7 linked regions of the Homo sapiens genome follow. The gene in region 3 interacts genetically with the main gene of each other region. Each region holds a gene or a part of one and is shown on either strand. Other genes may lie near its edges. The genes, in order: KLF13, STAT1, CREBBP, SMARCA4, HNF4A, CPAP and STAT6.

Region 1 (3,282 bases), on a different chromosome or scaffold from region 3:
AGGATTTCTCTCCTGGTGCCCTACCCCCATTTCCCAGTCCAGGCCGGGGCCTAAGGACCGCACCCTGCCATTAAACGAGAACCACTTTGGGAATGAAGACACGCTCTTATGCCAAAAATAGCCAACGCCTGCATATTTCTGTTTTAAGGCAATGTTACCCTTCCATCTATCAGACGGAACAGCCCTGGGTCATTTAAAGGAAAAATTAAATTAAGTGCTCTCTTTGGAAACAGCCAACACCCGCTTCCCTCCCCCACCCCCCGCCCTGCTCTAAAACAAACCAGCTCTTCTTTTTATTCCAAGATGACTAGGTTTAGAGTCCTATCTTTTCCTTCCTATGTGCAGACAGATGTGGAGCTAGAAAATCTCCTTCCGTGACACCCTGGGCAGATCACAAGGACGTCTGACCCCTCCCTGGAGAGCACTTTGCCAGCCTCCCAGGGACGGGCCACTCCCTCTCCCTGCCTTGGGGAACGGTGGACGGTGAGTGCACCAAAGGACTTTGGAATAAAATTCCTGAACCTGGAATGTGAATTCCTGAGACATAAAATGTATTCAGAGTGTGGCTTTCTCTGCCTCACACGAAAACAACTTTGGGAGGGACCTCACTTTGGAACTGGGCATGAAGATCTTTGCACCACAAGCACCCAGGGCTCTCTTCTGTCAAGGTCCCTACCAAATATTCCACTCTCTCTCCCAGACCCAATGCAAGCAGGGAGGTCAGAGAGCCCCAACACAGCATGGCAGCCAGAGGGACCAGCTCCGCATCCAACCAGAGTGGAGGTGACCCTCTCCCTGCCAGTTCCCACCACAGCAGAAACAATGCCACTGCCCAATTTAGGGTCCATCGGTCTACCTAGAAGTCACCACCACGCTGTCGGCCAATCCCAGCTGACACACAGTGGTAAGAAGCGGGCACCTGACGGCATACTGTGCCTGAGCAGCTGCTGTGGACAGAGCGTACCTGTCCACTCTGGAGCCAGCCAAAACAGTGACCATCAGCTGTGGGCAGTGGCTAGGCCTGGGTCCTGGGTTTGTGCTGCACCCCATAGCATGGCAGGGCTGAGTAGAAGCAGGATGGCCACAACCAAGGCACGCTAGGCCCAGGAAGCCCATCTGTGGCCCTCTGAGGTCCCAGGGCCGTTCCTTTGCATCAAAATAGGTACTCATCAAAACAGGTATCTCTGGCAAGATACCCTGAGTCCACCCCAATCCCCCCACCCCCCCCAACACACGCGTGTGTGCTCACGCGCGCACACACCCACACGCACGCACACACTCTGTCCTGGGCCCTTGTATTTACAGGCCTCAACTCTCAGGAGGAAGGGAAGGTGATACCTGGGCCACAAGCCTGGGTCAACACTCCAGCCATCTGCAGAGGAGTTTGCTGGACCACGGCTTGACTGACCCCCGCCCAGGGCTCGAATCCCAGCCCAGGACCCAGCTCTCTGCTCCTCCTCTCCTGCCAGGAGAAGGCCGGTGATGGGGCACTGGAGCAGCCCCACCAGCTGGGTGTGGCCTGGAGCCTCCAGGCAGGACAAGGAGAAGCAGGAGGAAAAGGGAGGAGGAGTCCAGGGGAAACGGAGAGGCTGGAGGTTTGCTAAGTCTGAGTTGGGGACATGGTGGGTCTGAGAAAAGTGTTGCCCGCAACTTTCTATCTGGCATTCCCTGCGGAGGAAATAGAATGCGCGCTCTCCGACAGCATTTCCTGTAACATCCGCGCCACTCCTGAAAAGGTCCAAGTCACAATGTTCCGGTCTCTTGCTACAGAATGGTCTCTGTGAAGCATGGTGCGCTGCCACATGCACAGCCGCTCACACAGACCCTCTGATGAGGAGGCCCCATGACCTGCCCACTGTTTCCAACAAAAGTGCCCGTGCGGGCAAACTCGGAACTGGATGTGCCACCAGGAATTTCTAACATCTTTTTAGAAGACCAGAATTCCCCATCAGAGGCCCAGGTATAGTAGTGACAGGGTCCTGCATGCCTTCTGCTGGGACACGGAGAAGCGGAGTCCTGGCAGGTGTGACCCCGGCCCCTGCCTCGGAGGTCGGACGGTGCAGTGCTACGCTCAGCCAGGGCTGGCATCTCTGCTTCCAGTGCTCCCTAGCGCCGTAGGAGAGGGCTCCTGAAGGCGGGGTGTGAGGCAGGCAGGGTGCAGAGGGCTGAAGGCCCCCTCCACTATCCCCAAGGTGGAGTGCTCCTCCAGCCAGGGACAGCTTTAAGGCATCCCTCTGCAGGGGCCTGTCTCAGAATCAGCTGCGTTGCAAGCCCAGCCAGGCTCGTTGGGCAGAGGCCAGAGACTGGGTTGGGGGCTGGGCAGGAAGAGGTCAGGCCAGCTGCTTAGGAATCTGCCCTGGAGGCACAAACGTCAGTGAGCACATCTGCTCCCAACAGACCCACAGGCTGGCCAGCCAGCCAGACGCTGAGCTCCACCAGACTGGCTGGCCTGCTCTGTCCCCAGCGTGTTCCCGAACCTAACAGAAAACTCCAGAGTGCAAATCTATGTACAGAGTAAGGCGGCAGGAAGGGGTGTCCTCACTGACCTCGTGAAACGTGTCCATCCCTGAGAAAGGGGGTTCAACAACGCTGAATCTCAACTTTGTGGGTGTATCTATTGTGCAATTTGGTGGGTGGTGTTTTTTGAAATTTTTGTGTTTTTTTTGTTTTTTTAACAAATTTACTTTGACACCTGAGGTGAAAAAAATTGTTTTTTCGTGGACTTTGCATCAAGTTCTCTCTCTTCTTTCTTATTACAAAAGGAAAGGCCAGGGACTCACGAGGGGGTGGGAGCGGCTGCTCATGGCTGTGGCGGGCTCAGGGCGAGCTGGCCGGGCTGATGGTGGGGCTGCTGGCGTCGGAGCGGCTGTAGTCGCTGAGGGAGCCGGTCCGCGAGCCCCCGCCGCGCCGCTGCAGCATTCCCGGGTGGAAGTTGGCGTGGCGGCGCGCGTGCTTGGTCAGGTGGTCGCTGCGCATGAAGCGCTTCTCGCAGATGGGGCAGCTGAACTTCTTCTCGCCCGTGTGTGTGCGGTAGTGCCGCGCCAGCTCGTCGGAGCGCGCGAACTTCTTGTTGCAGTCCTGCCAGCTGCAGGCGAAGGGCCTCTCACCTGTGGGCACAGGGGCAGAGCATCAGTATCCGCACCTGGCCCCGCCTTCACACCCTCTCTGGGGAAGGGCCCGCAACACCCAACACCCTGGTCTCTCAACACCCCTCCCACATGCCCCACCTCCAAGAGCTTCTGTGACAAATCCATCAAGGCAGAGATGAAGGTGGGCCCCTGC
Region 2 (4,628 bases), on a different chromosome or scaffold from region 3:
AAAATTAAAAACTGCTAATTTGGGGGTATTAGCAATACCCAGATTCATTTTAAAATAAGTGCTGAATCATCTGTATATTTGGGGACAGCTGTGGTCGCAAAGAACCAAAATACTTTTGTTTGTTTGCTTTTTATGGCACCTATTACAGCTGTTGCCAATAATATTACTCCTCTGACCTCTTCCATTGACATGTCTTAATCTGCCATAGCAATTCTGAATATGTGTAGGGCAGGTAAGGACAACATTTAGGAAAATAGTGTTATTGATCTTATTTTAAAATAAGGATTGAGGTACATGAGAAAAGCATCAAACCAATTCATAACGTCAGTAATTTTAAGAATCTTTATATTAAATACTATTAATGAGAGATTAATAGAATTTTAGAATTTTAATACTTCTTAAAAGTAAAGTCTCTTGGCTAGTGCAGTAAAATGAAACCATGCCGAATTCCCAAAGGGCAAAAAGAACTGACAGCTAAACCTCAGCAATTAGAAACAATATTGTTTTAATGTTGTCTTCTTTGTTTTTTAGTCATTTCAATTGTAAAATCAACTGAAACTTAGGTTCTCGCCATCTATATAAAAACTGAGAGAGGAGGCCTCAGATTGTATGCAGTGCCACGGAAAGCACTGTGTGCATATTATATTTAATGCAATACAGATACTTTAGCTTTAATTTTAAAACAAAACTCAAGAAATCTTTATCTCCACCAAAGAAGAATACAGCATTTGCATGATAATATAGTTGTGGTAGCAGTAGTGGAAAAACAAGATACAGCCACATAGACAGCAGTATGTAAAAGGGAAGAACCTTGTCAAACCCATCTCTTAATCTACTTTTTGTGTCAGTGATAAGGAAGGAAAAAGGTAAAAATACAGTATACTTCACGAAACATCATCCACTCAAAAAAGTGTCTGGAAAAAGTACAGGAGAGAGAATGGAACCATTCGCAAATGTGAAAAACACATATATCAGCGAAACATATGCAGTTCTCAATGCAGTTACATAGGAAATGAGTTTTGAAATGATCTGATTCTCATATTATCTCTGGTGTATTATTCAAGTTGTCAGTTACTGCTTTTTCTACTCCTTTCCCAATTTTGTGGCTAATAGACTAAATACCACCCTAATAACAAAAAGGACAAAGTAGCCCATTTAAGAAACATGAATTAAATTTCTGAGTTTATCTACATCTATGGTTAATTTCAACTTTTGAATGAGTGGTTGTGAATAGCCTAACTCCCTTGGGAGAACTGTAAAAATAATTGTATGTGACCAAGATGAAAGCAGAATGTATTCAGCTTTGGATATCAAACACAACTTGTGAATTTGGAAATGTACATCCTTCTATTGATATTAGCTAGTGTCATTAAGCCATAACAAACAGTAAAGCTAATATTCTCTTCTCAAGAAACAGAATTTGTCTTTGTCTTTAAATAGCCAATGTGAAAGATGTAATAAAATACACATTTTCCCCCTACCAGATCCATGATGGCTACCTTTGAAAGAGGACTGATATAATTGTATATAAACTTGGCTTTGAACTATTTCACAGGTAAACCAATGGAAAACTGCCAGTTACACTTAAAGCAAAGAAAACATGTAAGAATTCTCCCACAGAAATTTACCGTTCCTACGTCAAGCAGTTCCCTAAATAACCACTGATTTATCCAACAACCTATAACAGTTGGGCACTGACTTTATGCATAACATTTGCTAGATGTTGCTTAACTTCTCCTTTCCCAAAGGACCCTCATTCTCGTCCTGATACTTTGGGTGTATCTGGATGTTTTTCACTTGTGAAACCCACTCTTCAGAGAATGCCTTTCAATTTTACCTTCAGTAAGATGCATGATGCCCTTCAGAGTAACTGATGTTTCTGAGTTAGAGAAAAATTCACTTGCTATCAACAGGTTGCAGCGAATTTGCTGGCCTTTCTTTCATTTCCCTAGAAACACAGGATGTGAAGGAACAGAGTAGCAGGAGGGAATCACAGATGAGAAGGAAAACTGTCGCCAGAGAAGATGAAAAAAATTCATGCTCTATACTGTGTTCATCTGTAAAAAGACAAAATGTGGTTAAGTTTATTACACTGATCTTGTGAAATGCAGACTCATACATTAAACATTGCTTGTCTATTCTAGAATGAAGTAGTAGGAAGATACTTGCAATGGCAAATAAATACCGTGGAATAAGAGGGCCTTCAGCATGTACTATGTATTATCCTGGGCTAATCAAGACCTTTTATATCACCTAAGCTGACGGATTATTACTCTGCTGCCCACTGGCTTAATTTTGTGAATCCATCCAGACTGCATAAAGCTTTTTGCTGTTATGCAAGTCTGGGGACAGAGCAACGTGTCAAATCTGCTCATGTGAAACGGGTGAGGAAATGCTGAGCCATATGCCAGAGGGAGAGAGGAAGGAGAGGGAAATGATACACTTCCCCTAAAGGCCACTCAGTGGGTAAAATCAATGACTGTGTTTCAGGTACAGACTAAAGAAGCAGAATTACTAAGAACCCCTTCACCTTCCCCACCAGTGCCTTCTGCCCAGCTGCCTTGACCAGGACAACTTATAGTAAGTAAACTGTTCATCCAAAGGATACTAGCCTGCCAGTGACTTCCTGTCTGACTTCCACACTGGTCTTTCCCCTTAGACCAGATGCTTTCAATCGAGGATGATTCTGTCCCCTGGCAATGGCTGAAGACATTGCTGATTGTCCCATCTGGCTGTGAGGGTGCATGTGCTTACTGGTATCTATTTGGTAGAAGCCAGAGGTGTTGCTGAACCTCCTACGAAGCACAGGAAAGCTCCCCACCCCACCAATCCCCAACAAATAATTCTGAAGCCCCGAATACCAGTAGCACCAAGACTGAGACACATGGCACTAGACTGGAAAGCCTCTGGAGAACTTTTTTTTAATCCCAAGTGCTCAATAGTGTGTGGTACATAGTGGGCTCTTAGGAAAATTATTTTGGATTGAAAAGCACAGTGAAAGTGTTGCCCCTATGTTTCAGTCTAGCTTATGTTTCTCTTTTCTTTTTCTTTCTTTTTTTTTTTCAAATTGGAGACGGAGTCTTCCTCTGTTGCCCAGACTGGAGTGCAGTGGCACCATCTTGGCTCACTGCAACCTCCACCTTCCAGGTTCAAGCGATCCTCCTGCCTCAGCCCCCCTAGTAGCTGGGATTACAGGCACACACCACCATGGCTGGCTAATTTTTGTATTTTTAGTAGAGATGGGGTTTCACCGTGTTGGCCAGGCTGGTCTCAAACTCCTGATCGCAGGTGATCCACCTGCCCCGGCCTCCCAAAATGTTGAGATTACAGGCGTGAGCCACCGCGCCCGGCCTGGCTGATGTTTCAAATGTGTGCTTAATAGGGTGGACCGTGGGGGTAAAGAGAGGGAGGGAGGGGGAGATAGATAGATAGAGGAAGAGAGGAAGCCCAGATTCAGATCCTGTCACTGCGTGACCAGGGCAAGTGGCTTAACCTCTCTAAATCTCAAAGTCTTCATCTATCAAAAGGGGATTAATAGTACCTAGCAGATAGGCTTGTTAAATTAGATGGCATACGTAAAATGTTTAGTATAGTAGACAGAAAGTAGTAGACAATTAATAGCTAGTCCTATCATTATGAGCTTTGGCTAAAGGCCTCTTGGAGAGTAGACTGGTTCTATTACAGTCCCAGAGGAAAACACTGATTACACAGGAAATCCAGACTAAACAAATGCCCAAGTCATACTGCAGAGAACACTGGTGCTCTGGCTCTCTTGGACAATTTCCTCAGGAGCCTATGGTCCTGTTGCTCCTGAGGCTGCACCAGGCGTTGGCCCCTGGTACCACCCTCTTTCAGAGCTGCAACCTCCAGACTTGGCAGAAGACAGCCAGCTTGGGGAGAGCTGCTTCTGTTTCAGAGTATACACTCTGATTCTAAGAGTAGATGCTGGATGGAAGTCATGGCCAAGGGGCAGGACAGCAAACCATTGTGAAGTCAACCCAATTTAGAGACTGATTCAACCGTTGTCTAACCAGTGCCGTGCCTATATTATGAACTCTTTTTCTTTTCTTTTCTTTTTTTTTTTTTATATTATAGCCTCTTTTAGCTCTTTAAGTCTTCTATGGGTTTAATGGGAGGCTTTAGTGGTGTATAGAGGGTGTGTGTGTGTGTGTGTGTGTGTGTGTGTGTGTGTGAAATGGATTTATTTTATTCTACAAATGAAATGAATAAAATCACCTGAAATGGAACGGAATGGCTACAGCGAGTGTCCAAAGACCACAAAACTGTTTCCTGACATGTGCTTAGCATATTTAAATTGTTCTCACAGTATCATCCTGAGAGCAGAGAGAGCAGTCCAACTGCTCCACAGGACTGCAGAGAGGGAACCAATCCATCTATTTTCTCAATAATGGTGATGACAGAGATGGAATGCTGATTGCCAAATCCCAAACACATACGGGCCTCTCACCCAAAGGCCATGATGCCTTTGTCTTAATAACAGAATAAACCCAATCCTGTACAAACAGCTTCTTCAGGGTGCATGTTTTGAATGGGGCAAAGATTAGCTTTTTGTGGGAGGCTTTCCAGGATACCGGACAAAAGCATGCACTAGAGACTCACTAGGTAGA
Region 3 (4,208 bases):
GCTCTTGGCTCACTGTAACCTCCGCCTCCTGGGTTTAACCGATTTTCCTGCCTCAGCCTCCTTAGTAGCTAGGACTACAGGTGCACACCACCATGCCCGGCTGAATATTTTTTTTTTTTTTTTTTTTTTGAGACAGAGTCTTGCTCTGTCGCCCAGGCCAGAGTGCAGTGGTGCAATCTTGGCTCACTGCAACCTCCACCTCCCGGGTTTAAGTGATTCTCCTGCCTCAGTCTCCTGAGTAGCTGGGATTACAGGCGTGCGCCACCATGCCCAGCTAATTTTTGTATGTTTAGTAGAGACGGGGTTTCACCACGCTGGTCAGACTGGTCTCGAACTGCTGACGTCGTGATCTGCCTGCCTTGGCCTCCCAAAGTGTTGGGATTACAGGCGTGAGCCACTACACCTCGGCCAATTTTTTGTATTTTTTGTAGTAGAGATGGGGTTTCACCATATTGGCCAGGCTCGTCTCAAACTCCTGACCATGTGATCTGCCCGCCTCAGACTCCCAAAGTGCTGGGATTACAGGCATGAGCCACCAAGCCCGGCCAGCACCACCTACAATCGTTTTTTTGAGACAAAATCTCACTGTTGCCCAGGCTGTAGTGCAGTGGCACGATCCCGGCTCACTGCAACCTCCGCCTCCTGGGTTCAAGCGATTCTCTGCCTCAGCCTCCTGAGTAGCTGGGATTCTAGGCGCCTGCCACCACACCCGGCTAATTTTTTTGTATTTTAATAGAGATGGGGTTTCACCTTCTTGGCCAGGCTGGTCTCGAACTCCCGACTTCATGATCCACCCGCCTTGGCCTCCCAAAGTGCTGGGATTACAGGCGTGAGCCACCGCACCGGGCCCGCATCTGCAATCCTATAATGACGAGCCGTTGAGCTAACTGTAAGTCATTAGCCAATCTGAACCATCTTTGAATCCAAGTAGTTTTACCATCTTTTATTATAAACACCATCACATTTCAAGTTTCCTCTTTTTGATCACAAATATAGGACTTTTTCTTCTCCTCTTAAGTATACAGCATGAGACACAGCGTTGGGGCTTTCCAGGTTTCTTACAGAAATTTCCTTACGACAAACTTAGGGTTAGCATCCACAGACCATGCTCTCGGTCACATCCTTCGACATCTGGATTGCCCAAGACGGTTGCACAGGATGCAGACTCCAAAGAGGATGAGGTTGGTACATAACGTTTTGAATTCCAGGATAACCTGAAACAGAGGCCCCTCCACTGCCCACATTAAAAGGCTGCACAACCAGGAGGGCGCCACTTTCTGAGTGTGGGCTTAGAGCTGCTGCTCTCGGGCTCTAGCCCCACTTCTTGTTTGAACACATGGCTCAAGGTTTCCCTACGGGTGGAAAAGATGAAGAGGACACTGGAGGTTAAGAACCCAGCAGGCCGAGCAGTGGCAGCAATCTCCACCGGAGGCCCGGCCTGTGCTTCCCCTCCTGGGATGGGGTGAATGGGGGCTGGTCAGGGGTGCCAGATGGTGGTCTTATTTTTACTTGAATTATTCTGCATTTTATAACTCAAGGTTCAAAGCTCTGTGCTAAAACTAGATCGGACCTTTCCAACTTCTTAGAAAGGTTCCTCGAATTCAGATTCCCAAACCAAGTATTCAGCTATTTAAAACCTATCTGTGAATGTAAGGGCCCAAACGGAAGCTATTTGGGGCGTGATTTCTAAAATTACCATCACCCCCACCTAGACCAGCCTTTGTTGGGGGACTAGGGATAAAGTGGGTTCTCTGGGTGCTGGGGGTGGTAGACTTAGGGGATGAACTTCAGCTCCCCTGCCCATGGTCCTCCTCTCAGTTTTACGGTTTTTGTGAACTTGTCTCACCCACTCAGTAAGGGAGCCTGGAACTGGACTCCAAGGGAGGCAGGACCATGTGGCTAAGTGCAAGTATCCCCCGAAGTGGGGGACCTTTCTCACTGTAACAGGGACCGGAGCTGGTGCTCCAAGGTGTCTGTCCCTCAGCATTTCCTCAAACGCCACACGGGACATGCTGCGCGGCAGCGGCAGGATTTGGGGGGAAGTCAGAAAGCACCTCGCGAGCCTGGAGCACTCTCTGCCTCAGATTCTGGGAGTCGTGTACGGGGGGGGGGAGCCGCCTGAACACGGGAAGAAGCGCCGCCTCTGGGGGTGGCAGCTACGACGGACAGGGAGGATGGAGGAGTGGGCCAAATGCAGTTTCAGACCAACTGACGACCCTAACTGTGTGAGCGACAATCACCTGTGAGCCTCGAATGTGTGGGGCCAACGCTGAGCCGCCCACCTCAGTCGCCCACCTCAGTCTCCGGGAAGAAAAGCCTCCGGGCGGCCGCTAAGCCTGGGCCACAGTTCCCAGCCACCACCCACGCCGCCACAACCACAACCGCAGCCCCAGCCTCTCCGCTATGAGCGAACAACCAGAACCATGTCTTACAAAGAACAGACTCAAAAAATATATATAAATAAATAAAAACCTTAAACATTCTTACAGGGATCTTAAAGAACAGAATACATGTTAAAAACCTCAGTAATTTATATCAATTTTAAGCGGTACTTTATATACAATGGGGAAAAAACACATGCATAGTCCAAATACAATGTTGAAAACAGCATTTTCATAACAAAAAACCCCGAACACTAAGTGTTAATACCATGTACATGAATTCAAGAAGGACCACCCTTTTTGTCTGTTGCACACAGTTTATTTAACAATATGATATAAGAAATGAGTTGGTATTTTACCATTCTATACAGTGATTGAATCTTCTCGAGTTTCGTATTTATAGGAATTAGAGCGCTTGCATGATTTACACTAGAATTGCTTTTCCTCATTTCAAGTTTCACATAGAAGAAAGAAAAGAAGGCTTCTTCTCTAGTAACATTAGCATGGTCTAAGAGTGATCATCCCTATTTTTTGTCTAAAACCAGTTTTATCAGAGAAACAAAGCAACAATTTCTACATCTGCAAGACAAGTTTGGCTTCAGCCATTATGTATAGATAGATGTGTGTGGGTGTGTACGTGTGTGCACGCCGGAGTCAATTCCTATCATCCAGGGTAATACTGGGAGACGCCCACAGAGTTCACTATAGAAAAAAATCTTCCCGAAACATCACAAAGTTATCGGGATACATTATAAGCTTGCATTATTTCAGGAATCAGTTCTGAATATTATTTTTCTTCTTACTTTTAAACATAAATGTTTAAAGTCTTGAAAATACAAATAAAAAATATGAATATAATGAACTTGTTTTTCCCGTTAAAAAAAGGCATGAGTCACCAGCAATGACGACAAAAAGAATCCAAACAAAACCCCCCTCCCCCCAAACAAAAACAAAACGGAAAAAAAAGAACCCCCCCCACCCCCCCGCCAAAAAAAAACCAAAGAGAGAGACCAGATATTTAAATCAACTGGTTTTTAACAAAAAAATATATTCTTTGTATTGTTTCTTTAAACATCAATCCACCCTTCCATGGCTCGGAAGTCGCAGTTCCATCTAGGAATAAAAAGAACCTAGATGCCTGGATTTTCAGTACAAAAGGTCCAAGAACATGAAAGGGAAAAGGTGATGCTCTCACAATGCTACAAGCCCTCCACAAACTTCTCTAGCGTGTCCCCCGTGGTGTCCCCGACCAGGGACAGTTCGCTGGACAGCGCACTCCTGCTGGGGGTGTTCAGCTGGGGGAGCATTGCACTCTGTTCGGGGTTCCCCAAGTGTCCCTGATCTATGGAGCTGGCCATGGTGACTGCGAGTCCGGGGTGGGGGGAACCAGTCTGGGGTGAGACGTGGTGTGGCGAAGGCTGGGGCTGTATCCGTGGTGACGGGCTGGAATGTGGAGGCTGGGACTGGGGCCGTGGAGACTGGACAGGGGCTGGAGACCGCACCTGGTTACTAAGGGACGTGGCGATCTGCTGGCCAGGGAGATGCGAGGCCTGTGGCTGTCCTGAGAGCATGTGTTGCTGGGGGCTCATGGGGTTCGGCTGGCCTGGGGACCCAATCTGCTGCTTCATCTGCTGTTGCTGCAGAATCCGCTGCTGCAGGGCTTGCTGGATGTTGGGGGTGCTGTCTGCCCCCAGCCCCGGCTGCCCCATCTGGCCAAGCTGTCCCATCTGAGCCGCCATCTGGCCCATGGAGCTGCCCTGGAGGGGGAGATGCTGCTGCATGCGCTGCTGCTGCTGCATGGCCGGTGGGTAGCCTCCGGGTCCTTGA
Region 4 (4,628 bases), on a different chromosome or scaffold from region 3:
GCAGCCTGGCCAACATAGTGAAACCTCATCTCTACTAAAAATATAAAAAATTAGCCAGGCATGGTGGCAGGTGCCTGTAGTCCCAGCTACTTGGGAGGCTGAGGCAGGAAAATCGCTTGAACCCAGGAGGCAGAGGTTGTGTCGAACCAAGATCGCACCACTGCACTCCGGCCTGGGCAACAAGAGTGAAACTCTGTCTCAAAAAAAGAAAAAAACAAACAGGTGTGGCGGCGCACATCTGTAATCCCAACTACTTGGGAGGCTGAGGCAGGAGAATCCCTTGAACCCAGGAGGCAGAGGTTGCAGTGAGCCAAGATCGTGCCATTGCACTCCAGTCCGGGTGACAAGAGTGAAACTCCATCTCAAAAAAAAAAAAAAAAAAAAATGTTGGCCAGGCACGGGGGATTACGCCTGCCATCTTAGCACTTTGAGAGGCCAAGACGGACAGATCACTTGAGGTCAGGAATTTGAAACCAGCCTGACCAACATGGTGAAACCCCATCTCTACTAAAAATACAAAAAAAAAGTTAGCCAGGCATGGTGGCAGGTGCCTGTAATCCCAGCTACTAGGTAGGCTGAGGCAGGAAAACTGCTTGAACCCAGGAGATGGAGGTTGCAGTGAGCCGAGATTGCACCACTGCACTCCAGCCTCAGTGACACAGCGAGACTCCATCTCAAAAAAAAAAAAAAAAGTTAACAGAGATTGCTGTGTTGACTGTCTAGATTATTTTACACTACACCAATAAGATATTAATTATAGAAAATCTCTAGAAAATCTATAAATGACCAAATCAGCACAATCATCCCCAAATCCTTACTTGATTTTAGATTTGAAGATTTCCGTCTTACTGATTCATCTTGGGAAACCCTGAGTCAGATCAGTCCCTGCACTGCCCAGAACCCTCTATGGCTCCCACTTTACTCAGAGCAAAAGCCCAAATCCTCCATGCAGCTCGCAAGGCCCTGCATCACCTGCTCGTCACCTCCCTGCGCTCCCTTCCTCCAGCTCTCCCCGCCACTCACTCTACTCTGGCTCATGCAGGTCCTTGCTTTCCAGAGAAAACACAGGCACATTCCAGCCCCAGGGCCCTTGCACCTTCTCCTTTTCCCAGAAAGCTCTTTCCCACAGATCTGTGTGCCTCCCTTCCTTGGGGGTCTGCCCAGATGTCACCTCCAAAAGAAAGAACTCCCCCAACATCAGTTCTACAACAGCCCGTTCCTTCCTCTCTATCCTGGCTTGATTTTTCTTTGTGCCCTATCACCTTCCAGACGTGCTACGCGTGGATTTCATCACTATCTTCTCCCTACCATTGGGTTTTTACACCAATACACTCTCAGTACCTAGAATACTGTTACAATGAGCAAAAGAGAGAGACAAGCAGCATGTTTAGGAACAAAGCAAACACAGCCCCGTGGCAACCGCTGGACAAGCCAGGCAGCCAGGTGGGCGGGCTGCAGGGCCTTGGGGCCACCGGAGCGTACCTGGTGCTTCTGCCGGCGCTTGCGCTCCTGCTCGATCTTCTGCTGCTTCTCCAGCTTCTCAGTGATGCGGGCCTCGCGCAGGGACTGGCGCTTGCTGCGCTTGTAGGCCTTAGCATTGAGGGCTGTCTCCAGCGCTGTGTCCCTCCGCATGCACACCACCACCTCCTGGCGCAGCTGTAGGAGGGAAGAGGACAAGCCCGCGCACTGCACAGCTCTGTGGCATCCACAATGACAAACACGTATGGTGATGTCACATGCTTCACCGCTAAAGGAGCATTGTAAGTGCCTTACACACCCAGTCCGTGTGTGCAGGGGACGTCTAGCAGGTGCCCCCGGGCAGGGCGAGCACAGGACAGAAGGTGATCACTTCTGGACATCTATCCAGGGGGTCCTCTCGGACCTCCAGCTTGCCTCCCCTCTACCACACACACGTCTTAGGAGTCATTCAGAAGTATAACACTCTTGGCTGGGTGTGGTGGCTTAACGCCAGTAATCCCAACACTTTGGGAGGCCAAGGTGGGAGGATTGCTCAAGCCCAGGAGTTTGAGACCAACCTGGGCAACATGGAGAGACCTCACTTCTACAAAAACTAGAAGAAAAATTAACTAGGCGGCCAGGAGCAGTGGCTCATGCCTGTAATCCCAGCACTTTGGGAGGCTGAGACAGGTGGATGGCTTGAGCTCAGGAGTTCGAGACTAGCCTGGGCGACATGGCGAAACCCTGTGTCTATTAAAAATACAAAAACCAGGCCTGCGTGGTGGCTCATGCCTGTAATCCCAGCACTTTGGGAGGCTGAGGCAGGAGGATCACCTGAGGTCAGGAGTTTAAGACCAGCCTGGCCAACATGGTGAAACACTGTCTCTACTAAAAATACAAAAATTAGCCAGGCGTGGGGCACATGCCTGTAATCCCAGCTACTCAGGAGGCTGAGGTGGGAGAATCACTTGAACCTGGAAGGCAGAGGTTGCAGTGAGCCAAGATTGTGCCACTGCACTTCAAAAAAATCAGCCCGGCATGGTGGTGCACACCTGTAATCCCAGCTACTCAGTGGCTGAGACAGGAAAATCACTTGAACCACAGAGGCAGAGGCCACAGTGGGGTGAGATGGCACCACTGCACTCCAGCCTGGGTGACAGAGTGAGACTCTGTTTCAAAAAAAAGAAAAATATAGCCAGGTGTAATGGTGCACGCCTATAGTCCCAGCTACTCAGGAGGCTGAAGCGGGAGGAGGACATGAGCCTGGGAGGTCAAGTTTGCAGTGAGCTGTGATCTCTCCACTGCACTCCAGGGTCTAAGCACAGTACCCTCAGAAATAGACCCATGCAGGACAGCACGTGGTGGCTCATGCCTGTAATCCCAGCACTTTGGGAGGCCAAGGCAGGCCGATCATTTGAGGTCAAGAGTTTGAGACCAGCCTGGCCAATATGGTGAAACCCTGTCTCTACTAAAAATATAAAAATTAGGCATGGTGGCACACGCTTGTAATCCCAGCTACTTGGGAGGCTGAAGCAGAAGAATTGCTTGATCCCAGGAGGCGTTGGTTGCAGTGAGCAGAGTTTATGCCACTGCACTCCAGCCTAGGTGATAGAGCAAGACTGTTTCCAAAAAAAAAAAAAAAGGGAAAGGGAAAGGAAGAAAGAAGCCCATACAAGTCTGCTTTGAGGCGGCAAGTGCTTTAGGGTAGTGAGGTCCACGTCCCCAGCACTGCGCAGGCCGTAAGAGGAAGGCTCTGCAGTGATTGAGTGCCCATGGATGGCCACGGCTGCTTTTCACAGCCCAGGCAGGTGTAATACTAGCCAGGCAAGCCGTATTTGGAGCCTTAGCAGCAGTGTTGGTGACAAAGGCCCTTTTCGGAAAGCTGCGGCCATGCCAGCACCCACCTGCCTCTGGAAGTTCAGCAGCCTGAGGGCCTTGAGCTCAATGGTCGCTTTGGTTCGCAAATCCCCGGCCAGGGACCCGGGAAGGTTTTCAAGTTCCTGAATTCGGTGTGCGATGCGAGCCTGCAGCCTGGGAGCAGAGACAAGGAGCAAAGGCGGTGAGAGGGTTGCCAGGGCACCCAGTTACAGCTGGAGCTGCAGGGGACCCATCCCTCGAGAGAGGCAGGCACTAGTCATGAGGCAAGAGATGCCTCAGAAGAGGATGCTGGCCGCAGGGCACAGCAGAGAGGGAGATAGCCCGGGGCACTCCTCAGGACCGGGCCTCAGGGGACAGCAAACAAGATTCCTGATAGACGCGCCCAGGTCATGCCTTTTCAGTGGTGTGAGCCAGGTTCTGGCGTCAGGCGGGCCAAGGTTTTCATGCAGCTCTGGCATGGATGAGGCGCAGGGCGGTGGGAATCTATTTCAACTGCACACCTCAGCATTCTCACCTCAAAACTGAGGCAACCCCTCGGAGTGACCCTAGAGGCTTGGTCTGAAGGTTACGAAGGTTACATGCGAAGGTTATGTGGGCTAATTCTCTTAATCAGTCTTTCTGCACATACTCATTGAGCACCAACTGTATGCCAGGGACCATTTTAAGTGCAGGGCCTTAGCACTAAACAAGAACAACAAAGCAAGGAACTCTCAGTCTCATTAGAAAACACAGGCCATAAAGGAGATTTAAAAAAAATAAAATATCCACTGCAATTCCAGAGAGTGGCTGGAAGTGACAGGAAGGGCCTCCATGAGGAGGGAACCCCAGCAATCAGGCCTGAATGAGTAGAAGGAGCCATGCACAGCCTGTGCAAAGGTCCTGGGGCAGGAACAAGTCTAACTTGTTAAATAAATGAAAAGAGGAACAGAGAGACTGGGATGGGTGAGGAAGGATGCTGGGCAGGAGTGGACATAAGGCAAAGCTTATTGGGCAGATAATTGAAGCTACAGGCAGGTTTTAATCCACGGAGTAGATCTGATATCAATCATAAAAAGAGAATTCATGCCAGGTGCGGTGGCTCATGCCTGTAATCCCAGCACTTTGGGAGCATCTGAGGTCAGGAGCTCGAGACCAGCCTGACCAACATGGAGAAACCCTGCCTCTACTAAAATAAATACAAAATTAGCCAGGTGTGGTGGCGCATGCCTATAATCCCAGCTACTCAGGAGGCTGAGGCAGAAGAATCGCTTGAAGCCAGGAGATGCAGGTTGCAGTGAACCGAGATTGTGCCA
Region 5 (4,628 bases), on a different chromosome or scaffold from region 3:
TCTCAAAAAAAAAAAAAAAAGGAAAAAAGAAAAGAGGGTCCACAATGGATCTCTGAGGTCACCCCTCACTACCACCCCCAGACCCAGTGTCTTGTTGTTTATTCTGTCCTCCTCATTTCAGTAAATTACTCCATCGTCATTTCTGCTACTCAAAGCAAAAATGTAGACTTTGTCCTTGACTCTTCCTCTTTCTCTCACTCCCTATGTCTGATCAATCAGCAAATCCTGTGGGTGTGGGCTCTTCCTCCAAATAGATGATCAGGTTTATCTTCACTGCTCCATTGCCAGGGTCCAAGCCTCCATCATCCATCACATGATTGGAGACAGTGACATTCTCAGGAATCTGCAATTCACTCTCTACCCAACAGAGTGGTTTGTTTGAAGCATTAGTCTGGGATGGGTGTGGCGGCTCACACCTGTCATTCCAGCACTTTGGGAGACTGAGGTGGGTGATCACTTGAGGTCAGGAGTTTGAGACCATCTTGGCCAATAGGGTGAAACCCTGTCTTTACTAAAAATATAAAAAAATGAGCAGGGCGTGGTGGCGGGCGCCTGTAATCCCAACTACTCAGGAGGCTGTGGCAGGAGAATTGCTTGAACTCGGGAGGTGGAGGTTGCAGTCAGCCAAGATTGTGCCACTGCACTCCAGCCTGGATGATTGAGGGAGACTTTGTCTCAAAGAATAAAAATACTTAGTCTGGTTTTCACTCTCCTTACAATAGTTGCAATGAGAATAAAATCCAAATTTCTGAAAAGGCTGACAAAGCCATATGTTTATGATTTGGTTTCTGCCCAATCTCCATCTTCACCTCCTACACGTCCTCCATCTCACAACCTTGCCCTTCTTTCTCAAACACAACACTCTCTCCTATCCGCAGCCCTTGAAGTAGTTTCTTCTTCTTGGAATATTCCTCTCTTGTCTTTTAAGCCTTCCATTTCCTTTCAGCCGTTAGGGTCTTAGCACAAGAGTCACCACTTCAGAGAGGTCTCCTGTGGCCTCCCCTATCTAAAGAGGATTCCTTTTCAGTTAAACTCTATCATATTACCTGTTTATTTCAAAATCATAAAATGTGAGGCTTTATATACACATGCACGCACATACGGGCATATACACAGATATCCACGCATCCATACATACTCACACACACACAGCCTCCCCGAGGGCAAAGATCTTGTTCTTTGCTGAATTGCCAGCACTTAGAACAGTGACTGGCACGTGCTAGGTTCTCGGTGCCTGAACAAATAGACCATTGCCTTGTTCCCATTTTTCTGGTGAGGAAACTGAGGCACAGACAGGTTAAGCAACTTGCCCAAAGCGGCACAGTGGGGAAGCCAAGGAGCTGAGGGGTGAGCTCACTGTGTGAGGCCTGTCTCCTGGGGAGTCCCCACTCCAACCCCGCCCCTCCTGGGCTTGGCACGGACCTCCCAGCAGCATCTCCTGCAACAGGTTGTCAATCTTGGCCATGCCGAAGAGCTTGATGAACTGGATCTGCTCGATCATCTGCCAGGTGATGCTCTGCAAGGTGGGCAGCAGCAGCAGCAGCTCTCCAAAGCGGCCACGCGAGTCATACTGGCGGTCGTTGATGTAGTCCTCCAAGCTCACCTGCACCTGGGAACGCAGCCGCTTGATCTTCCCTGGATCGCTCAGCCCCTTGGCATCTACAATGGAAGAGGGTGGGCAAGGGAGGGCAGCAGGGTCCAGCTGGAGCATCTGGGGAGTCAAGACCCAGATGTCCCCTGACTTGTATCACACAAGGAGTCTTCAGCAGTGTGGGCACAAGGATTCAGGGACCTCAACAACCAGGGTACGCCAGCATGAATTATGATTTCCTAGACACAGGCAGAAAAAGATTTCTGCCACATTTCCTAAAGCACTAAACCAGAAGAGAGGGGAATAGGAGATGGAGGGCGGGACTTGAGGAATGCATCCAATAAGCACCTAGCAACCGCCTCATCTTACACACGGGGAAACCCAGACACAGTGCAAAGATAGGACTTGTCCTGGGTCGCACAGCCAGTTGTTGGCAGAGCCACAATGGGAACTTGGGGTTTTGGGCCACAGTTGAGGTCCCCTCATCCAGACCTCAGCAGTTGCTGCTTCTACTGTGTTAGAATAGGCTCCCCTTCCCTGGTTCCTGCTTCCTATCACCTTAGGGACTCAGGTTAGGTTTCACCTCCTCCAGGAAGTCTGCCTTCTACCCTCCTATATCTGTATCCTGTGTCCCTCCTGTTTCCAAATCTCTGCGGCCCCTCCATCACTGCTGACCACACAGGATGTAATTGTTGTGCCATCCAACTGTGAGTTTGGCAGGGGCACGCGTATGTCTTATTTGCCATTTTTATTTTATTTTATTTTATTTTGAGACTGAGTCTCCCTCTGACCCCCAGCCTGGAGTGCAGTGGCGTGATCTCGGCTCACCGCAACCTCTGCCTCCTGGGTTCAAGCGATTCTCCTGCCTCAGCCTCCCGAGTAGCTGGGATTACAGGCACACACCACCACACCCAGCTAATTTTTGTATTTTAGTAGAGACGGGGTTTCACCATGCTGGTCAGGCTCATCTCAAACTTCTGACCTCAAGTAATCTGCCTGCCTCAGCCTCCCAAAATGTTGGGATTACAGGCGTGAGCCACTGCACCCGGCCTTTGCCTTTTCAAACTCACCACCTAGCACCATGCATAGTCAATATTTATTGAATAGGGCCAGGCATGGTGGCTCATGCCTGTAAGCCCAGCACTGTCAGAGGCCGAGGCGGGGGGATCACTTGAGGTCAGGAGTTTGAGACCAGCCTGGTCAATATGGTGAAACCCCATCTCTACTGATAATACAAAAATTCACCTGGCGTGGTGACACATGCCTGTAATCCCAGCGACTCAGGAGGTGAGGTGGGAGAATCGCTTGAAACTGGGAGGTGGAGGTCGCAGTGAGCCAAGACGGTGCCACTGCACTCCAGCCTGGGTGACAGACTATATATATATATATTTTAAAAAATATATATTTATATATAAATATATATTTATTGATAACTATATGTATATTTTTTGTTAGATGGCTGGATGAATGAATGAAAAAAAAATCAGTGAATAAATTCTAGATCCTTAGCCTAGAAAGGAACTTAAGCGGTCATACAATATTTAATCTCAACCTTCATGGAGGTAATGCATTTATTTCCTCTTTCATGGACAAAGGAAGTGGCAGAAAGAACATTCACCCACATTTCTAGTGGGCTGTCTCCACTGAATCATGCTTATTCATTAGTTCATTCAGGCCACACATGTTTATTGAGCACCTCCTGCATGCCAGGCCTTGAACTAGGTCCCCCGCCCCTTCAAATTGCTGGAGGCTGCTGCCTCTGACTCAGCATCAGTGATCCTTCCCATTTTGCAGAACAATTCTGCCAGTCCAGCCTCGTGTTGAGCACTACAGAGGATACAGGCTGGGCCAGGCTGTGGAGGGAACTAGAACTAGAAATCTCACCCTCTGGTAAGTGTGGGATAGCAGGTGGTAGGTAAGAATGTGGGCTTGAGAGAGAGAAATTGGGATTGACAGGTGGTCTGAAGTTCAAATCCAAGCTCTGCCATTTTCCGGTTGTGTGACCTTGAGCAAGTTAATCATGCCTCAGTTTCCTTATCTGTAAAATGGAGATAATAATAATTCCTACTTCACAGGTACCATGTTGGTAAGTAAGACAATCCACATAAAGTGTTTAAAAACAGCTCTTTAGGGAGCATTCAATACATGGGGCTCATCTTCCACTTCATCACTCTCTCTATATATAATATATATCACTATATATATATAAAATATATATCACTATATATAATATATATTATACGTAATATATCACTATATACTATATATATCACTATATATTATATATATATAATATATATTATATATATATACACATATATGTATTTTTTTGAGATGAAGTTTTGCTCTTGTTGCCCAGGCTGGAGTGCAATGGCATGATCTTGGCTCACTGCAACCCCCGCCTCCCAGGTTCAAGCGATTCTCCTGCCTCAGCCTCCTGAGTAGCTGGGATTACAGGCACGGACCACCACACACAACTGATTTTTGTATTTTTAGTAGAGACGGGGTTTCACCATGTTGGCCAGGCTGGTCTTGAACTCCTGACGTCAAGTAATCTGCCTGCCTCAGTCTCCCAAAGTGCTGGGATTACAGGCGTGAGCCACCACACCCAGCCTTTTCATTACTATTATTACTAGAGGTAATCTATTTGCAGCGTGAAGGACAGTGCCTGGCACACAGTAGGTCCCCTCTAACATGTAAGCAGGGAAGGCAAGCAAGCCTCCAGAGTTCAGGCACCTTTGATGCTGGGAAACAAAAGCAAGTTTTGTACAAAGACTGATGACAAATGCATTCTGTATAAATGCAGGTGCAAAAGTCAGTGGACAGAATGGGGAGAGGAGAGCCAAGAGCCACAGGAGAGGGTAGGAATGCTTTTTCTTCATCCTGCAATGTGAAGGGTTGGGAGATACCGTCTACAGTTGATAGAACAAGAAAGGAAAGATAAAAGCACATAACTTGCAACAGAGACTCAAAAATAGCAATAAAAATATATTGGGAAAAATGGGGAAGAAAAGATGGGAATGGTGATGGAGAAAAG
Region 6 (4,628 bases), on a different chromosome or scaffold from region 3:
ATTTTATAATGCTCTGACTCACCAGGTGGTTGGTCTTGACTTATGTTTAACTTGAGTTCATTTCCCAAGTGTGAATCTGACTTTGGTTTTGGTTTCAAAGAAGGAAAGAATTTCATCATCAGCTCCGATGTAGGAGGACTTCTGCTCCTCCTGGACTTGCTCAAGTCTTCTCCCCTCTTGACTGGTGCAATCTTCCTTTTTATTGTTTTGTCCAGGATACCTATTTCATTATTAGGGTAGCATGTCTGCGGCGTCCCATAAGTGGATTCATTCCCAAGAACAACATCATGGTTACACAAATTCTCTTCAAGGTCAGTCCAAGTTCTTTCATCATCAAAGTCCATTTTACTCAGACTTAGGGATGAGGATCTCGAGGGCTCAGACACTTTATGTTTTATGCTTTCCATGATAGACTCATCGCTACTGTAATCTTTATCAGACAAATCCAGATCAACATCTCTCCTTTTATCTTCTTGGGTCCTGGTGTCCTTAAAAGGCCCCTTATCATCACAGACTTGTGGGCTATCCTCTCTGCTGCTGATGCCCCTCTCTCTATCCTCAGTCGATGGTTTTATGGTAACATCAAGCTGTTCCTCAGAGTCAGTGCTACTGTCACTATTTGGAACACCTTCATCGTCACGTGCATTCCATTCAGTCTGATTTTCAGAAGTGCTCTTTTGGACGGCTTTCCTGATTTTACAAGGCTGTTCCCTCAATTCATCAGCTGAGGACAATGAATGAAGTTGTTTGGGTGCGACTTCACACTCACTCTCCTTCTCACGTGCAGTGTGGTCCAAATCCTCACTGCGGTTACAATGACTAATGGGATCTGCCGGATTTGTCTTCTGTGGCACAGCTTTGACAGGGGTGGAAGACATCCGGTGACCTTTGCAGATCTGTTGATCCCTTTCTAAGATTTTCAGTACAAATGAGGAATTACTAGAAAATGATATTTCATCAGCAGCTTGTTCTAAAAACAAAAATTCATCTAATTCCAAATTTTCCTTTTCCTTTTCTCGTTCCCAAGTCTCTAACTTTTTCTGAAGAGAAACGTCAAGAGAAGATTCAGACTCTTTCATGGTCTCCCTTATGGGGCTCTTAGCAGCCAGCCGGCTGGCCGGCCCTGTTGAAAGAGGAAGTCTGTCTTTACCTTGTGTCTTATTCCACCCTGTGCAGCCAGTATCGCAAGGTTTTGGACACTCAGTTACATTTTCTTTATTATTAGATGTGACTTTGTTTTCAAATTTGATCTGGTCTCTAAACTGCCCATCACATTTCTTCCCCGTCTGTATTTTCAATCCTGACGGAGAAAGACTTTTCCTGTTACTACACTTCAGCATTTTCGGCTTCTGACTGAGGGTGACAGAACCACTCTTGGTTCTAGCTTTACTGTCCTTTTTAAGGATAGGGTTGTCTGCACACAGCTCTTTATTTTTAAGAGCGGTTTTCCGCTGGAGTTGCTGTCTATCCATTTTAAACAGCGGCTGGTCCTCGGAAGTGCTCTGGTTAGTCACTAGTTTACTTTCTTTGCCTTTTTGAAACTTAGATTTGGCATTAGTAAATCTAGCTAAACCTTCTCCTCGTTTTAAAAATGGTTGTTTTGGTTTTGCTTTGATTGGCAATGGTCCTTCTGCTTCCTAAAATAAAAGAATAATATTTGAATTAATTTTGGTATATCCAAGTGATCTCAAAGTTATTTTTAAGGCAAATTATAGATAAATCTCTAAAGCCTTAGAATGATTTAATCAGAAGAGCACAATTGCTGACCTTCAGCTGTTTTTGCTTCAGTTCTTGCTCTTCCAACTGAATTTGTTCTTCTAAGTAATCTTCAAAGGTCTGTTTCCTTTCTCCAATAGCAGCTTTAATGGGCCTAATTAGAAACAGAAAGTTATTTAACATGCAAATCATAATGTGTGAATATTTTACACTTAGTGTGCCTGGTATAGAAACCCTTGACAACATGGAGAACTAACTTTTCCCAAAATCAGTGCCTCCCTTTGAGAACCTAACAAAAGCCACAATCCCTCTCCACACCTTAAAATAAAGAAACATACAACACTCTTCACATGACTTTGGAGTCCTAAGAACCCTTCTGAAGTCCATCTATCGACCACAGATTAACACATGGAGTAACATATTCATCAAATAACTTTAAAATGTATTTCAAAAATAGATCACTAAATATGCATTTTTTTAATTAAGAAAGGCCCTTAATGTGAGAACAATAATCAGAAAAGTCATTTTGTCCATATTATATTAAAAATTTTGAAATAAATTTTTAAAATAATCAACTTACTTAAAATATAAAATACTTAATCTTTGCCATATTTTAAAATTCTGTAACTAAACTGATAATGCAATTATAATTGATAAGTGACACCAAATGGGAGATGTCAATACTTAATTTTTCCCTTCTCCAAAAATAGGATTTAACTATTTGAGAGAAAATTGATTTTATCCAGATGTTTCTCTTAAGTGAAAAAGCTTCGAGAATACAATGTCAAGGCAGCTTGACATATCTCCTCAACCTCTTTTGTTGTTGACAGTACATAATAGGTTGTATCTTTAACCTTAAAAGCATAGTCAAGCAAAAACCAGAAAAATATAGATCTTTCAAACAAAGAAAGTGTTCAATAATAAAGGCTAGCTATTGTACTAAATAGTCACATTTCTCACTTTCAACACGAACAATACCTTTCTTCAATATTAGCCACTTCTGAGGAATCATCATGTTTTTGTAAGTTCTTATCATTTGCTTCCTGAATCTGTTCTGTCACTTTCTCCCAACATAAGATACTTTCTCCTGAGATAAAAATTAAGAACAATTTAGCTCAAGAAAAGCATATTAATGTCTTAAAACATGAGAATTCTACAAGTTACTATGCTAAAACATTTTTTTAATTAAAAGTAATGTATATCACAGATTTTACAACACTCAAGGAATTCTTTAATATAATTAAGAGAAACTACAAAACTCCAATTAAGACACTTGAGGCCGGGTGTGGTGGCTCACACCTGTAATCCCAGCACTTTGGGAGGCCAAGGCGGGAGAATCACTTGAGGCCAGGAATTCGAGCCCAGCCTGGCCAACGTGGCGAAACCCCGTCTCTACAAAAAAAAAAAAAAAAAAAAAAAAAAAAATTAGCCAGGCGTGGTGGCACATGCCTGTAATCCCAGCTACCTGGGAGGCTGAGAGCAAGCAGAGGTTGCAGTAAGCCAAGATGGTGCCACTGGACTCCAACCTAAGTGACAGAGGAAGACCCTGTCTCAAAAATAAAATAAAATAAAATAAAGACACTTGACATTCTTCAAAAGGTTAATGTCATGAGGAAAAAAGTGTGGGGTTTTCTAGAGATTAAAAAGGCTAAAGAGTTGTAAGAATCAAACGTAATACATGAACTTGACTGGATATGCATTAATTTGATTGGATCCTTTAAAAAAAAAGCACCTTTAAAAGATATTTTGGGATAACTGGGGGAATCCCAAAATGGACTTGAATATTAAGGAATTATCATTAATTTCTTTAGATACAATAATAGCACTGTGGTTATACAGATGAATGTCCTAATTTTTGCTTGATGCATACTGAAATATTTGGAATGAAGTAACAAGATACCTGCATATTATTTTCAGTGAAATGGTTCAGCAAATTATACACATATAGAAGTAAAGATAAGGATATACATGTAAAAGATATATATACACATACATACACTGACAAAGTAAATACAGCAAAATATTAACTGCTCAATCTAGGTGGTGGGTATATCAGTAATAACTGCAGTGGTCTTTCAACTTTTCTAGATGTTTGAAATTTTCCAAAATAAAAGGCTATGGAAACATGTTGTATAAAAAAGAAGAAAAACATATTTGAGCTTTCCACACCGATGAATTAACTCTAAATTAGGAACAAGGCATTATGGTTGGGTGCAGTAGCTCAGATCTGCAATCCCAGTACTTTGGGAGGCCAAGGCAGGCAGATCACTTGAGGCCAGGAGTTTGAGACTAGCCTGGCCAACATGTTGAAACCCCATCTCTACTAAAAATACACAAAATTATCTGGGCATGGTGGCACATACCTGTAATCCCAGCTACTTGGGAGGCTGAGACACAAGAATCACTTGAACCCGAGAGGCAGAGGTTGCAGTGAGCTGAGATTGTGCCACTGCTCTCCAGCCTGGGTGACAGAGCGAGACTGTCTCAAAAAAAAAAAACACGCCACAGGGGACAAAAAAAAATAACCATACAGAAAGAGCTGGCAGGGTAGCACGTGCCTATAGTCCCAGCTACCTGAGAGGCTGATGGGGGAAGATTACTTGTGCCCAGGAGATTGAGTCCAGCCTGAGCAACACGGCAACACTCCATCTCTGAAAAAATAATTTTTAAAGAAAAAACATGGAAAGGCTTCATCTTAGGACAACTTAGTAACACTATAAGCACAGAAGAGAGAAACATAAGTAGCTCACCTGTAGGATGGTTACGGTTTTCTTCTTTTAAATTATTTTTTTCCACAGGTGCTTCTTGATACTGTGCCTCAGAAAATAAATTAGGAGACGCACGTTTTGAAGTTAAGACAAAATCTCCATGAGCAGTTCTACAGAAGTTGCTTTGCTCATGGGATAAAATGT
Region 7 (4,628 bases), on a different chromosome or scaffold from region 3:
ATGCTCTTGCTCACCCCCACTCACCCGGGCCCCAGTGTGCATGAATCCCAGACACATGGGGTATGGGGCAGTCACAAGAGGTGAGGGTCCAGGGCCCTTGTGTGTGGCATTGGAGGAGGACTCGGGGTCCCAGATTGGGGCAGGGCTGGGCCACGGTTCACCTGGAGCTGGATGGGGAGTTTGCCGGGGCCAAGTGTGAAGCTGGCAGAGAAGAGCACAGCGCACTTCTCCTCTGTGACAGACTCAGTGCCCTTCCGCTCACACCGCTTGATCTTCTTGAGAAGCTGTGGGTGGGGTGAGGGAGAGCAAGGGCGAGGTCATGAGGACAGAGACCGCTCCTCCTGGGCTTCCTGACATCCTCTCCAAGGAGAGTCCCACAGTCTCCTAGTGGTGCCCCCCTCACTGCACCCCAAAGCCCCTCACCAGGTTCTTGAACAGGGCAGAGCAGCAGTTCCCAGGAATGCTGTTCTCCAAGGGCACAGTGTTGTTGATGATTTCTCCAGTGCTTTCTCTGCCAGGGGAGGTCAGAGTGTGAACGAGCTCATCTCACTGTCGTCAGGTGTGGCGAGTGCATGGGTGAGTGTAGACTACCCACTGTCACCAGCCCTAAATCTCCATGTCTCTGTTTGGGTTCTTAAGGGAGGAGTCCCCATCTTGGCCAAATCATGATGCCCCCACCCCATTCCAGCCCTAAATGGGTCCCTCCCTTTCCTCTGCCTTGACCATTCAGGGTCTCCACATCCCATGGCCCTCCCTCCCCATCCCTTGCTCTTTTCAGTGCCAGCCCTCCAGGCTGCCTCCATCACCCTAACAGCCCTTCTCCAACCCCAGGTCCAATCCCAGCTTACGCTCCAGCCCCAGGACCCTGAGGCACACTCAGCTCCCGCGCCTGCTTCTCTGTCACCATGTCGGCCCTGACCAGCGGAGGCTTGGCTGGGGCCCCCAGGAACCTCAAGCCCAACAGGAATCGAACTCCAGCCTGGAACTTGGTCTGAGTCTTCAGTACCTGGGGGGGCTGCTTCTCCACCAGGAAGCAACTGGGAGTGAGGAGGACACAAGGGGAGTTGGGGGCTAGGTCCCTGCTGGTGCCCTCCCCACAGCTCTAGCCCCCTTCTTTTCTTCCCGAGGTCTGTTCTAGGCCAGACTGGGAGCTCCCGGGGAATACCTGGTGACGAGGGTTCTCAGGACTTCATCCAGCCGGCCAGTCAGCGATGCCCGGGTCTTGGGCTCAAGCTCCCCACCAGCCGCCCCTACCTCCTGCTGTAGCTGGGAATAAATGTCCACCAGGCTTTCACACCTGGGGCCAGGACAGTGGTCAGGGGGCACAGGATTAAGGCTGCTTGCTCCGGCCCAGACCCCCTTCCCCTATACCCAGGGAGAAAGGCTATCATGTGTGGAGAAGTGGGGTGGGTAGTGGGTGTGGCTGCAAGGCACCTGGGCTGAAGGGGGTTCTGTGATCTGTTGGCCTAGGGTCTGGGTGGGAGGTTCATTCTCAGTGCCTACACCCCCTGTGGAAACCCAGCTGCCTCTCCCCCGACGGCTCTTGCACCCAGGACAACTGCCACCACTTACAGTGCTTTGTGGCAAATTGGAAAGTGTTCCCACCCAATAAACCAAATGGAAAAGCCCTCCTATTCCTCTAGGCATGGGGCTTGAGGAGAGAAGCCTGGGTTGGATGAGTCCCCGCTTGTGCCCCTCCACTAGGCCCACTTGTACAGGATGCGACCTGAACGACAGTGTGCACAGCCCCGCTGGAACTGGCTTTTATGCATCTTGGTCCACTCCAAGGCCCTCCCGCCTGGCTTCTTTCTCTCACCTGTAGGGCCTTCAGCAGGGTCAGCTGCCCACCCCCAGCTTGCCCCCTCTTCCCCATCAGCCCTAGCCCAACCTCTCCTGGAGTGGGGCCAGGCTCTCCTCAAACGGTGCGCCATTCCCTGCCAGCTGCTGCTGCCGTTTCCAAATCTGGATCCTCTTCAGCACTAGGGCTTTGGCTGCCTCTAGCTCTCCAGTGGTCTCCTGCAGTAGCATGGCCAGGGCCTATGGGCAGAGAGGGGCCTGAGCCAGGGCCTCACGCTGCCTCCACACCCAGCTCCTGGGATACGGCTCTTTTTCTCACTCCTCTGGCATTCCCTTGCCCTACTTCAGCCTGTGTCTTTCTGAGGTCTAGCTTCCATCCCTCCAGCTGCACTTTGACCAAGGTCTCCACCTGTCAGCCCATTACTCACCTCACTTGGCCCAGTCCCATTAGCAGGAGTTTCTATCAAGCTGTGCAGAGACACTGAGGGTTGGGGGCAGAAATCAAGGGTGCAGACAGATTAGAGGTTCAGATAAGGTTGAGATCCAAGAGGCAACCACTCCTACACACTCCCCAGAACCACCCTGGCCCCCACCTTGGCCAGCCTCAGCCCCCTTCTGCAGGGCTTCTCGGAGAAGGTGGATCTCCCCTACTCGGTGCTGCAGCCTCCGCAAGCCTGTCTTAAACTTGAGTTCTTCCTGCTTCCAGTGGAAAGGCATTGGCAAGTGGCGGAACTACACAGGAAGGACAGATGCCAAGAAGTGAAACACTCTGCTCATCCCTCTATACCTGGCCTCCACTCTCTGCTCTGCAGATAGCGTTTTCTTGTTCCCCTCTCCCCTTTGGCAGTTCTTCCTGACCTTTTGGAATATCGTGGAGATAAGACCTTGCTCCTAGCAGAATCAGCTCCTTATCCCTTGCTCTGTTCTCCCCGGCCTCTTACCTTCAGTCCCTCATAGAAAGATTCCCTGAGCTTGACTTGGGGTTCACTCTGACCCTAGGAACCTCCTTTGGTCATTCCTGGGCCTAGAACACTGAGCCTTTACTGAGGTTCAAATTCTTTCTAGTTTGTCATGGCTCAGGCCAAAGTCTCAGGGGATTGAGTTGGGGTGGGAGGTGGAATATCACAATACCTGTTCCATAACAGCTTTTTTCTCTCCTTGAAGTATTTGTCTGAAAGTGGCCACCAGCTTCAGGGGGTCCCTCTGATATATGCTCTACAGAAATGAGGGTGGTAAACAGTGAGCTTTGCTCTTACCCATGTCCTTCAATCCCTCCAATCCCCAGGCCTGCATTCACACATATACTATAAGGAAGCACAACTGTAGACTCCAGAAGTTTTTGTGCATTTGCATGCTTTTAAAATCTAATTTGCCTGCTAGCTAGCAGTTAACCACAGGAACACCAATTTGCTTCCAGCATCCAACCAATTTTCTTCCAGGGCCCAATGCTCAACCCAGTTCAACCTCAGCCCCACCCAGCCTTGTCCCCTCCCCTCCTGCCCCACCTCAAGGGTGCTGATGTGTTGCAAGATGGTGCTCCCCTCCCCCTGCTCTCCCACCGAGGCCTGAAGGTGCTGGACAGTGTCTGAAAGTAGGGCACTAGCCAAGTTGCAGCAGAAGGCGTCGGAGCCGACCAGGAACTCCCTGCAGGAAGATCAGGATGAGGCTACCTCAGGCCAGGGCTTCCTCAGCTCTCCTGACCCTTTACCCCACAGCCAAAAGCTCAGCAGTTCCTTTCTCGCTCCTTATTCTCCATCTAGGCCCTCTGTAGCTTTCACCCATGCGCCTTGTTTCCCAGTCTTCTAGCTGTTATGAGAAGTGCCTTTGTCCCAGCCCAAACCCCCCTCCTCTTCGGCTCAGCCTCCTAAGAGATGGGGTCTCCATCTGTCAACATTCATAGCCTGGTCTTGATGGGGCACAGACTCCCTGCTAAATCTAGGTCACTACACATGGAATAACAGGTCTCAAGTTCTGAATCCATGGGTGAGGGGAGAAAAATCTAAGGAGAAGGAAGATGAGTTAGGGAAGACTTGGGGGACCAGCAGGGAGCAGCCAGGACTCACCAGGGCTGGCTCTCCAGCCAGTCACCCAGAAGATGCCGCAGGTGTTGGGGAAAGTCGACATAGAGCCGCTGCACTTTTTCTGGGGGCATCTTGGAGACCAGACCCCACAGAGACATGATCTGGGACTTGGAGGTTGCCTGGAGGAGAAAAATAAGGCCACTCTGAGGGGTGCCCAAGAAACTTGGCCTATCTCCTGGGGCAGCCAGGGACCTCCCATAGATAGCCCTCCTAGGGACCGTCCCCACCACCACTCATGGCCAGACCACCTTAAACCAGGGGCATCCTGAGTCAATGCCTGAGATGGGGGTAACTCCTTCAGTGATAGACACAGGGGTGGGAAGAGCTGAGCTGTAGCCAGAGGGATGGGGAGGCAAAGGGAGACAGGGCAGTAGAGCGAGAGCTCTCTTAGAGTGGCAGAGGATTTAGTTGCAGCTCTAGACCTGGCTCTGGTTCTGTGGGCAAAGAGCCTTCCCTTTGTGGGCTTCGATCTTCTCATCTATAAAATATGAGTGTTAGATGAGTGGAAAACTTTCCAAACTTTTTAAAGCGGTAGGCAATGTCAGCTTTTAATCTGTGGAATCTCAATTACATAAAAGGTACGAAACCGAAGATGCCCTGTTGAAAGCAAGCATGGAAAGCCTGAAACTCGACTGCTTCTACTTCCCTCTCCCCACCTCCTGACGCCAAAGGCATCCCTAGACAAACCTCTCAAAATTCTAGGACTCCATGAGATAATTTGAAAACCACAAGGCTCGGCCAGGCGCAGTG

The links.
Region 1: of CREBBP (region 3) and KLF13, changing one enhances a phenotype caused by changing the other (phenotypic enhancement), as found in Homo sapiens cells (one study listed by BioGRID).
Region 2: of CREBBP (region 3) and STAT1, changing one enhances a phenotype caused by changing the other (phenotypic enhancement), as found in Homo sapiens cells (one study listed by BioGRID).
Region 4: of CREBBP (region 3) and SMARCA4, changing one enhances a phenotype caused by changing the other (phenotypic enhancement), as found in Homo sapiens cells (one study listed by BioGRID).
Region 5: of CREBBP (region 3) and HNF4A, changing one enhances a phenotype caused by changing the other (phenotypic enhancement), as found in Homo sapiens cells (one study listed by BioGRID).
Region 6: of CREBBP (region 3) and CPAP, changing one enhances a phenotype caused by changing the other (phenotypic enhancement), as found in Homo sapiens cells (one study listed by BioGRID).
Region 7: of CREBBP (region 3) and STAT6, changing one enhances a phenotype caused by changing the other (phenotypic enhancement), as found in Homo sapiens cells (one study listed by BioGRID).

The regions. Positions count from the first base shown.
Region 1 is NC_000015.10:31,371,835-31,375,116, reverse strand, and holds part of KLF13 (Krueppel-like factor 13), read right to left. Parts: intron 3,108-3,282; coding exon 2,818-3,107; 3' UTR 1-2,817. UniProt on the Homo sapiens protein: Transcription factor that activates expression from GC-rich minimal promoter regions, including genes in the cells of the erythroid lineage. Represses transcription by binding to the BTE site, a GC-rich DNA element, in competition with the activator SP1.
Region 2 is NC_000002.12:190,968,661-190,973,288, forward strand, and holds the end of STAT1 (signal transducer and activator of transcription 1-alpha/beta), read right to left. Parts: intron 2,058-4,628; coding exon 2,043-2,057; 3' UTR 489-2,042; downstream 1-488. UniProt on the Homo sapiens protein: Signal transducer and transcription activator that mediates cellular responses to interferons (IFNs), cytokine KITLG/SCF and other cytokines and other growth factors.
Region 3 is NC_000016.10:3,724,138-3,728,345, forward strand, and holds the end of CREBBP (CREB-binding protein), read right to left. Parts: coding exon 3,581-4,208; 3' UTR 917-3,580; downstream 1-916. UniProt on the Homo sapiens protein: Acetylates histones, giving a specific tag for transcriptional activation. Mediates acetylation of histone H3 at 'Lys-18' and 'Lys-27' (H3K18ac and H3K27ac, respectively).
Region 4 is NC_000019.10:10,988,178-10,992,805, reverse strand, and holds part of SMARCA4 (SWI/SNF-related matrix-associated actin-dependent regulator of chromatin subfamily A member 4), read right to left. Parts: intron 3,490-4,628; coding exon 3,363-3,489; intron 1,657-3,362; coding exon 1,483-1,656; intron 1-1,482. UniProt on the Homo sapiens protein: ATPase involved in transcriptional activation and repression of select genes by chromatin remodeling (alteration of DNA-nucleosome topology).
Region 5 is NC_000020.11:44,421,049-44,425,676, reverse strand, and holds part of HNF4A (hepatocyte nuclear factor 4-alpha), read right to left. Parts: intron 1,660-4,628; coding exon 1,423-1,659; coding exon of another isoform or gene 1,298-1,422; exon of another isoform or gene 1,034-1,297; intron 1-1,033. UniProt on the Homo sapiens protein: Transcriptional regulator which controls the expression of hepatic genes during the transition of endodermal cells to hepatic progenitor cells, facilitating the recruitment of RNA pol II to the promoters of target genes. Activates the transcription of CYP2C38.
Region 6 is NC_000013.11:24,905,324-24,909,951, forward strand, and holds part of CPAP (centrosomal P4.1-associated protein), read right to left. Parts: coding exon 4,467-4,628; intron 2,804-4,466; coding exon 2,695-2,803; intron 1,871-2,694; coding exon 1,768-1,870; intron 1,638-1,767; coding exon 23-1,637; intron 1-22. UniProt on the Homo sapiens protein: Plays an important role in cell division and centrosome function by participating in centriole duplication. Inhibits microtubule nucleation from the centrosome. Involved in the regulation of slow processive growth of centriolar microtubules.
Region 7 is NC_000012.12:57,104,303-57,108,930, forward strand, and holds part of STAT6 (signal transducer and activator of transcription 6), read right to left. Parts: intron 3,998-4,628; 5' UTR 3,977-3,997; coding exon 3,861-3,976; intron 3,442-3,860; coding exon 3,303-3,441; intron 3,013-3,302; coding exon 2,929-3,012; intron 2,530-2,928; coding exon 2,391-2,529; intron 2,279-2,390; coding exon 2,226-2,278; intron 2,038-2,225; coding exon 1,889-2,037; intron 1,298-1,888; coding exon 1,166-1,297; intron 1,038-1,165; coding exon 849-1,037; intron 512-848; coding exon 424-511; intron 290-423; exon of another isoform or gene 285-289; coding exon 162-284; exon of another isoform or gene 58-161; coding exon of another isoform or gene 25-57; intron 1-24. UniProt on the Homo sapiens protein: Carries out a dual function: signal transduction and activation of transcription. Involved in IL4/interleukin-4- and IL3/interleukin-3-mediated signaling.